3 linked regions of the Homo sapiens genome follow. The protein of the gene in region 3 interacts with the protein of the main gene of each other region in a pairwise test. Each region holds a gene or a part of one and is shown on either strand. Other genes may lie near its edges. The genes, in order: ANXA4, LBP and BDNF.

Evidence for each region.
Region 1: the proteins of BDNF (region 3) and ANXA4 interact in binary tests that used the Homo sapiens proteins (3 or more experiments, as listed by UniProt).
Region 2: the proteins of BDNF (region 3) and LBP interact in binary tests that used the Homo sapiens proteins (3 or more experiments, as listed by UniProt).

The regions. Positions count from the first base shown.
Region 1 is NC_000002.12:69,822,125-69,825,023, reverse strand, and holds part of ANXA4 (annexin A4), read right to left. Parts: intron 1-2,899. UniProt on the Homo sapiens protein: Calcium/phospholipid-binding protein which promotes membrane fusion and is involved in exocytosis.
Region 2 is NC_000020.11:38,359,841-38,363,500, reverse strand, and holds part of LBP (lipopolysaccharide-binding protein precursor), read right to left. Parts: intron 2,798-3,660; coding exon 2,734-2,797; intron 1-2,733. UniProt on the Homo sapiens protein: Plays a role in the innate immune response. Binds to the lipid A moiety of bacterial lipopolysaccharides (LPS), a glycolipid present in the outer membrane of all Gram-negative bacteria.
Region 3 is NC_000011.10:27,690,300-27,693,959, forward strand, and holds part of BDNF (neurotrophic factor BDNF precursor form isoform a preproprotein), read right to left. Parts: intron 842-3,660; exon of another isoform or gene 807-841; intron 1-806. UniProt on the Homo sapiens protein: Important signaling molecule that activates signaling cascades downstream of NTRK2. During development, promotes the survival and differentiation of selected neuronal populations of the peripheral and central nervous systems.

The sequences.
Region 1 (2,899 bases), on a different chromosome or scaffold from region 3:
GCCATCTTGACTCACTGCAAGCTCTGCCTCCCGGGTTCACGCCATTCTTCTGCGTCAGCCTCCTGAGTAGCTGGGACTACAGGCGCCTGCCACCATGCCCGGCTAATTTTGTTTTTGTATTTTTAGTAGAAATGGGGTTTCACCATGTTAGCCAGGATGGTCTTGATCTCCTGATCTCATGATCTGCCAGCCTTGGCCTCCCAAAAAGTGCTGGGATTACAGGCGTGAGCAACCGTGCTAGGGCCCTATTTTGTTAAATATTATTCTACAACATTATTTAATGGTTACAGAATATCCCATTGTATGCAGGTAAAATAATTTATTTGATCACATCCTCCCTCTCCCTATTGTTGGATATTTACGTTGTTTCAATTTTTCACTATTATAAACACTGCTTCAATAAGCATATTGTAGTTACATTTTTGTATATTTTCTTAATGATTTATTCTGGATAAATTTTCATAAAATGGGAATTACTGGACTAAATGCATTTTCTTAAACCTTTTTTTTTTTTTTTTTCTGAGACGGAGTCTCGTTCTGTGGCCCAGGCTAGAGTGCAATGGTGCAATCCTGGCTCACTGCGACCTCCGCCTCCCAGGTTCAAGTGATTCTCCTGCCTCAGCTGCCTGCGTAGCTGGCACTACAGGTACACACCACCACGCCTGGCTAATTTTTATTTTTTTAGTAGAGACAGGGTTTCACCATGTTGGCCAGGCTGGTCTTGAAGTCCTGACCTCAAGTGATCCACTCACCTTGGCCTCCCAAAGTACTAGGATTACAGGTGTGAGCCACCGCACCCAGCCTGTTTTCTTAAACATTTTGATATGGGTTACAAAACAGTCTTCCGGAAAGGTTCTATAATTTCTGCATATAAATTTTTGTGGTCTAATAATTGATTAATTTTTTAATCTTTAATTTTATTTATTTATTTTTATTATATTTTTAGAGACAGGGTCTTGCTCTATCACCCAGGCTGGAGAACAGTGGTGTGGTCATAGCTCACTGCAGCTTCGAACTCCTGGGCTCAAGTGATCCTCCCACCTCAGCTTCCCAGAATGCTGGGATTACAGGTGTGAGCCACTGCACCTGGCCTAGATTAATTTTTATTAGTCATTCGTGGGGACTAGAAAAGATGGAATCTCTGTATATAGGGTTCAAAGTTTAATAAGTATCTGTTAAGCTCAATCTTAATATATCCTTGTTTATACTTTGCCTCATTGATGTGCCAAAGCATAGGATGTATTAAAGTCTCTCGCTAGCATACTAATTCCATTATATGTTTTCTTCTGGAGCCTCAAGTTTCTTATTTATACATTTGAATGCAATATAATTTGGTACTGAAAGTTTCATAACAGTTTAATCTTTGCTGTGAATTGTTGCCTTTGTCAGTATAACGTGATCCACTTTCTCCTATTTAATACTTTTTCTCCCTAAATTCTTCTTTTTATTAATAGCATAATCTCCGCTTTCTTTCTTGTATGTCCGCTTTCTTTCTTTCCCTGGTGTTTTTCTTTAAGCTTTTTACATGTCACTGTATTTTAGTTGTTTCTTATAAACAGCATGAAGTTGGATTTTATATTTTTACCTAACCTGAGAGTTTATTTATTTTTATAACTTTTATTTTTATCTTTTGTCATTTTTTTCTATTATTTACATATTTTATGCTTCTATTCTGCTTTTTTCATTTCTTTTGACAACTATTATTGAATGAGTAATGTATTCTTTATTTTTAATCTTTTCTAGTGGTGTGTGTGTGTATACACACATATATTTACATATTTATATATACAGACATATATACACTAGATTATAGTGTTTTCTTCCCAAGCCAATCAATATATTTGTACTCAATCATTTTAGTGTTGGTATAGTATTATATTGTATGGATTTTCCATAATTTGTTATTCCCTATTGATTAATAGTAATAACAATATATAATAAATTATATACTATAATACCATATTATTGATATAAATATAAATAACATAAAGCCATGTAAATAATATAAATAATGCTATGATGAAGTATTATACTTCATCTATTCTTTTCACATTTCATTAAACAATTTTATTCAAATTCAGAGACTTTTTCTTGTGGTAAAAAAATATATATATATAATTTGTCATTTTAACCATTTTCAAGTGGCACTAGTTACTTTTACAATGTTATGTAACCATCATCACTGTCTATTTCTAAAACCCTTTCATCACCCCAAACAGAAACTCTGTACCCACTAACCAATAACTCCCATTCTTTCCTCTCCCTCCAAATTGCTGGTAACCTCTAATCTACTTTCTGTCCCTATGAATCTACCTATTCTACATATTTCATAAAGCAGAATCATACAATATTTGTCCGTTTGTGTCTGATTTATTGCACGTAGTATATTTTCAAGGTTCATTCACGTATCAAAAATGTCATTCCTTTTTTTCATGACAGCGTACCATTGAATATCATTGCTTTTTATGTATGTATATACATTTTGTTTATCCAGTCATCTGTTGATGGATATTTAGGTTGTTTCCACCTTGTGCCTATTGTTAATAATGTTTATGTTGATGTACAACTAGCTGTTTGGGTTCCTGTTTTCATTTAAGTATATAACTGAGAGTGGAATTGCTGGCTCATATGGTCATTCTATGTTAAAATTTTTTCTTTTTCTTTTTTGGGATGGGTCTTTACTCAGGCTGGAGTCTTGAAGTGGTACAGTCATGGCTCACTGCAGCCTCGACCTCCCCAGCCTCAGGTGATCATCCCACCTCAGCCTCCTGAGTAGCTGGGACTACAGGCGTGCACCACCACACCCGGCTAATTTTTGTTGATTTTGTAGAGACAGGGTCTCACTATGTTGGCTAGGCTGGTCTCGAACTCCCGGGCTCAAGTGATCCACCTGTCTCGG
Region 2 (3,660 bases), on a different chromosome or scaffold from region 3:
TAAGGCATCAGAGAACATCTCAGATAATTTGCCAGGGTCTCCCCCTCCGAGCTTAATGTGTGCACCCTGGATCCAGAGACTCCACTTGTAGATGGCTCCTTGCAGCCCTGTTGGCAATAGCAAGGGACAGCAAAGCACCTAAATGTCCATCAGTGGGGGACTTATTAAATAAATGAAGACACATCCATGTGATGGAACACTACACGGCTGTTAACAAATAAGGTCTGTTACAACCACTTTGGAAAACTGTTTGGCAGGATCTTATAATGCTGAATCTGGGCATATCACATGATATGACGAGCTTGCAATTTCACTCCCAGATATATACCCAAAGACATGCGACCATAGGTACTAGGACATTTATAGCAGCACTACGGATAATGGCCTAAAACTGAACACCCCCCAGATGGCCTTCAACAGTAGAATGAACAAATAAATGGGGAAACATCTACATGGTGATATACTATGCAGCAAGGAGAATAAACCAGCTACACTACAGGTGCATGCAACAATATGCATGGACCTCATGTTTTATTTTATTTCATTTCTTTTTGAGATAGGATCTCACTCTGTGGCCCAGGCTGGAGTGCAGTGGCACAATTTCAGCCCACCGCTGCCTTGACCTCCTGGGCTCAAGCGATCCTCCCACCTTGGCCTCCCAAGTAGCTGGGACTACAGGCACACACCACTATGCCTGGCTAATTTTTGTATTTATTGTAGAGATGGGGTTTCGCTATGTTGCCCGGGCTGGCCTTGAACTCCTGAACTGAAGTGATACTCCCTCCTTGGCCTCCCAAAGTGCTGGGATTATAGGTGTGCACCACCAAGCCTGACCTGACCTCATATTTTATTTTGTTTATTTATTATTTATTATTTTTTTTCTTTGTTGAGACAGAGTCTTGTTCTGTTGCCCAGGCTGGAGTGCAGTAGCACAATCTCAACTCACCGCAAACTCCGCCTCCCAGGTTCAAGTGATTCTCCTGCCTCAGCCTCCCGAGTAGCTGGGATTACAGGCATCCACCACGGCACCTGGCTAATTTTTGTATTTTTAGTAGAGACGGGGTTTCACCATGTTGACTGGGCTGGTCTCGAACTCCTGACCTCAGGTAATCCACCCGCCTCGGCCTCCCTAAATGTTGGGATTACAGGCGTGAGCTCTCACGCCTGCAATCCCAGCACTTTGGGAGGCCGAGCGGGCGGATCACGAGGTCAGGAGATCAAGACCATCCTGGCTAACATGGTGAAACCCCGTCTCTACTAAAAATACAAAAAAAATTAGCCAGACGTGGTGGCGGGCGCCTGTAGTCCCAGCTACTCGCGAGGCTGAGACAGGAGAATGGCGTGAAATCGCGAGGCGAAGCTTGCAGTGAGCCGAGATTGCGCCACTGCACTCCAGCCTGGGCAACAGAGCGAGACTCCGTCTCACAAAAAAAAAAAAAAAAAAAAAGAAAACAAAAAATAAAGGCGTGAGCCACCGCGCCCAGCCCTGACCTCATATTTTAAAGTTGAACAAAGAAAGCCTTCTGGCTTTTGAAAAGAGACTCAAAATATTGTCTGATTCCATTCATGTGCAAAGTGCAAAACTAATCTTTGCTGGTAGAAGTTGGGATGGTGGTGACCCTGGAGGGCTGGGCAGTGACCGAGGGGGACACCAGGGGCTCTGAAAAACCAGCCGTGTTCTGTTTCTCGGTTGGGAGCTGGTTACATGCATGTAAAAACTCTTTAACAGCACACTTATGATTTGAGCACTTTTCTTTATAAATATACTTCAATAAAAAGTTTTTAAAAATGAAATCAAGCTGGCACAGTGGCTCGTGCCTGTCATCCCAGTACTTTGGGAGGCTGAGGTGGGCAGATCACTTGAGCCCAGGAGTTCGAGACCAGCCTGGGCAACATAAAGAAACCCTGTCTCTACAAAAAATACAAAAAGTAGCCGGGTGTGGTGGCATGCACCTGTAGTCCCAGCTACTCAGGTGGCTGAGGCAGGAGGATCACTTGAGCTCAAGAGTTTGAGGCTGCAGTGAGCCGAGATCACACCACTGCACTCCAGCCTGGGACACAGAGTGAGACCCCATCTCAAAAAAAAGAAATCTGGAACAATGCCTATACTATATGTATATGAACATATATATTTAAAATAATACATATACACATAGATTCATGAACAAAATAATACATACATGAATGTCTATTTATATGCTTACATGTATTTATATTTGTACATACAAAGAAAATATCTGAAAAGATACACCCAAAACAGAAGTTACTTCTTGGAAGAAAAGTGGGGGAGAAAAATGAACTTTTAATTTTTACTTTCTTTTTTTTTTTTTTTCTGTTGAGACAGAGTTTCGGTCTTTGTTGCCCAGGGTAGGGTGCAATGGCGTGATCTTGGCTCACTGCAACCTCCACCTTCTGGGTTCAATCAATTCTCCTGCCTCAGCCTCCCGAGTAGCTGGGATTACAGGCATGCGCCACCACGCCCGGCTAATTCTGTATTTTTAGTAGAGACAGGGTTTCACCATGTTGGCCAGGCTGGTCTCGAACTCCTGACCTCAGGTGATCCACCCGCCTCGGCCTCCCAGACTGCTGAGATTACAGGTGTGAGCCGCTGCGCCTGGCCCTTAATTTTTACTTTCTATATTTTTGCCCCATTTACTATTTTATAAGATATATATATGCTCTTATAGAAATTAACAGAAATAAAAGTGTCCCGGGATGGATGGGGTGTCCTACCTGGCAGAGTTTGGAGATAAGGCTGTAGATCGGAGGACACTGATTTCTGGATCATTTCGCAAATCTGAAAAACATGGGAAGAGAATGACTGAGTGAGTTCCCCAGCTCTGGTCTGGCCCCGTGCTGATCACTGCAGTCACATTATTCCACACATGTGCTCAGTGATCACTGATTTACAAATATTTATAAGTGCTTGTCATGAGCCAGGTACCAAGGAAATACAAACAATAAAACTATGTGGGCCCCCATGTGGACTCCACTAGGGTCCAGTTGGACTTTTCAGTCTGTCCCAGGGCTGGACACCTGAGCTAGGGAGTCACTGACACAGCCTGAGGAGGGGGCACTGGCTGGAGACAGTGCCTGAAACTCCACCATTACAAAGTTTTCCTTTGGGAGGTCCTGGCCTCTCAGAATTTAGAGTTTAATAGCAGAACTAGACACTAACTAGAAATAAACACAAATAAACATACAGTTAATGTAGATAGTTTTTTTGTTTTTTTTTTTTTTTGAGATGGAGTCTCGCCCTGTTGGCCAGGCTGGAGTGCAGTGTTGCGATCTCGGCTCACCCTCCTGGGTGAACCTCTGCCTCCTGGGTTCAAGCGATTCTCCTGCCTCAGCCTCCCAAGTAGCTGGGATCACAGGCATGTGCCACCACGCCCAGCTAATTGTTATATATTTAGTGGAGACGGGGTTTCACCATGTTGGCCAGGCTGGTCTTGAACTCCTGACCTCAGGCGATCCACCTGCCTTGGCCTCCCAAAGTGCTGGGATTACAGACGTGAGCCACCACATTCGGCCTGTAGATAGTTCTTAATGGTCATCCTGAACAGATTGGCTGGACTGATCAGTATTCCCCATTCCTGCTGGTACTCCTGGAAGACTGAATGCTGGGGTCTGTAGGCTACTCACACACAATTGCCACCAGTT
Region 3 (3,660 bases):
AGCAGGATGGTCATTTGCCTGTCTGTCTTGCTTGGGAGTAAAAGAGAAGGCTAGGAACATGGCTGTAGGTTTGGTACTAGAAGAAAAGTGGGACCTATTCCGACTTCCTGATCCTGTGATTTTTTTCTTTTTTTGAGATTCACACACACACACACACACAAACTATGCACAAGTTTGCTTCCATGTTGTATAGCAAGAGTTTAAATATTTCTGAGTTAATGATGCCAAACTGTGCTCCGATTATATCAGCATATTTACATGATCCTTGAACACCACATATAGATTCCTATACTACACATTTAAGCAAAATCACCTCCTGACTTCACAATGAAAGAGACCTATTGGATTAAAAAGTGGTTTCTAGTAAACCCCAAAGAGATACTGTTACTAAATTACTAAATTTAAAGGCAAAATAGTATTCACTAAACTGATTTTTCTGTCTTATTTTCCTTATTTGGCATAATCATTAACCAACTTCTAGTAAATGGAAGCATTCTCACAATTTAAGTTTTTTTAGGGGGAAACACACAATTTATAAATACTGTCAAGTGAAGAACAGATTCCTGAATACTAAAAGACCCATGCATATCCTTGTATGTAAAAAAAAAAAAAATCCATCATAAAATCATAGACTCAAACACCATCTTTGATTCAGTAGTTCTCCCTCTACTGTGGCTTCTGCTATAGAGTCATTGTTAAAAAGAGTTCTTCATGAAAGATTCTCACATAGCAAAATGCTTTAAGAAAATGTCTAACAAACATTTTTATTGTCTCAATTTGTACACAAACTGACACCTGAAAATCAGAGAGGATAAAGAACTTCAATCTTTAAAAAAGAGAGGTAAGTTATTCCAAAATGCTACCAGTCAATAATTAAAAATACAGTTTGGGGGCAAGAAGTTCTGAAATAACTCAGAGAACTTGCTCAAGATTTTACTTTTGGACCAGTCCTCTTTGGGAGGGAGTATGTGAATAGGTAATGAAAGCCTTATATGAGAGAGTCAATGGAGAGCCATATCAAGGAGCACCTGAAGATATATGGATCAATACAGGGAAAAGAAATCCAAGTAGCCCAGTGCCTGACACTCACTGGGCACTCAATTAATGCACGGTGAATTAACAAATGAATTAATGAAAGAACCATTTGCTACATATAACATTCTTACTTTAAGAAAAAAGAATTTGAAACAGAAGAAAACATACACGCAAGAACACATACAAACTATAAACTATATGATATCCTAAAGGAGATGTAAATATTAAACTGTTTGCTTTGCTGACTGACACTATTAATACCTAAAAGCAGTATGAGAGATCACAAAGAATAAGTACTCATTCATACTTGGAGTGGGCTGCTCATCTTATGGTCTAACTTGCATTTTATGTCATGGCCATGTTGCTTAATCTCCAGCTGTTCTACAGAAGAGCAAAATAAGTTATAAATAAATTATTAAAGAAAAAAAGTAACTCTATCCATGCTGAGGCCTGAGGGAGTTGGGGGAGGAGTCAATTCCTTTTAGTTTATATTTAAAAAGAGAAACTCTTTGGAAAACTGTAATATCTGAAGATTTTGTGGTTTCCAAAAGTGAAGGTGAACGGTGAGAAGTTTTCTTAGTTTAGCTACTGAACCCTAAAAAAATATAACCTCAAAAGTTAATTTCTTAAGCAATTTGGGCACCTGAATTTGATAAGAACTTTTTTTTCCAGACATTCTGTTCTGTCTAACCCAAAGGAAAAATAGCCAATTTTGAGAATCTGTATACAAATAAGGAAAAGTAAAATACAGCGCTTTGCAAAGAAATGGGAGGGATTTCTGATACTCAATTCATGATGCTAAACACTTCAAGTAGATGATTCAAAGGCAGAAATATATAACTGTTCTCATTAGGATTGTTTATGGACTATAAATAAGGAGCAGACTTATGGCCAATGCATTAGAAAAAAACAAGTACAAAGGCACTTCAGAAAATACCTTACTCCAACCTCCCATTTTAGTGTCATTTCTAAAAGGGTTTCATTTCAGCCTTCCTACCTTTCTTCCTTCCTTCCCTTCCTTCCCTCCAACGGGGTCTCACTCTGTCACCCAGGCTGAAGAGCAGTGGGACAATCACGGCTCACTGCAGCCCCAACCTCCTGGGCTCAAACGATCCTACTGCCTCAGCCTCCCAAGTAGCTGGGACTACAAGTGCCTGTCACCAGGCTTGGATAATTTTTTTTGTCTTTTGTAAAGATGGGGTCTTGCTATGTTGTCCAGACTCGTAATGATCTCCTGGGCTCAAGTGATCCTCCCACCTCAGCCTCCCAGAGTGCTGGGATTACAGGCATGAGCCACCACACCAGACCTCTTTTTTCTTTATTATATATTCCTCTAATAAAGTGCTCTGTATGCAGTGAGCATTCAATATTTGCTAAATTAAATTAATGGAAAGTTTTCTAACTACCATGTAGAGTATCTAAATTTACATCATTGGTTCTAGAACTGCTGTCTGAAGCAACACAAATTACACTTATGACAGTTCGTCAAATCTTTGAAGCCCATCCTCAAAATAAGGATGTCAAAAATACATCACACATGTTGACACTCTAATCTCCCAGCCACAGTAGGCATTAGCAATCTGAATGTTATTTTTACTAATCCTTCACAGTTTTAGAATTCTTCTCAACCCAACATTCAAAAACCACTTGCCATTCCAGCCTAAGTTTTCTTGTCCCTAAGTCATGCATTCCAAGTCCCCTCAACCATTGCTCACATGCAATGCTTTCAAATTCCCTATGCATCCTGGTCACAGTGATTTGAATGTACACTAATTTATCGATGATGTACCTAAAACAACTTATTTCATTTCCTTGAACTGATGATAATATTCTAGATACAGTCTATTTAAAAAGTGAAGAATTATTAGCTTCTCCATTTCAGTATTATATTTCTAGCAGTGCAGCCCAAAATTTCAGTAGCTATGATAACAGCCTCTTGTCACACCACTGGCTTATACTGAACTTGCAGTTAATTTAAAACATTCAAGCTTCCTTTCTACAATCTGCTGATAAGTCATCCCCTAAAACCGTGCCCGCAACTCTCTATTCTCTCCTAAATTGATTTTTTTGTACTTAATCATAGTATTTTACATTTAAGTAAATGTAAATGATCCAGATTCTATCATTCAACAGAATGTCTGCAATATCTGCTGGCTTTATGTTTCATATGATAAGCATATCGTCTGTGCCTTCAGACACATTATCAGCCAACATGTCGGTGCTGGATGTATTTTCCCAATGTTGCATAAGAGGAATACCTTCGAGAGTTTGGCCTAGGAATGTGGCCTGGGACTCCGCCAAGCATCTCTCTCCAGCAAAATGACTGCAAATTTCTCGACCTTCAGATTCTACATGATGTAAAAGAAGTTTGTCTGTGTTTAAAAACACATTCAAGAAATAAGTGAACATGTGAAAAGACAGAAAAACTTGTTTTAATTTGGGCATAGTTTCAGTTTTCAAAGGCACATGAAGGCAGAAAGAAAGAATCACAAAATGGAACTACTGATGATAGCAACTCCAAAACCAAGACTGATTAGACTAAATCCCATGTGGCAAAAATTTTATTTAGTAAGTTTCCTTCTCCCTCTCTCCCTTTAGATATATGTGCATACACACACACGCACC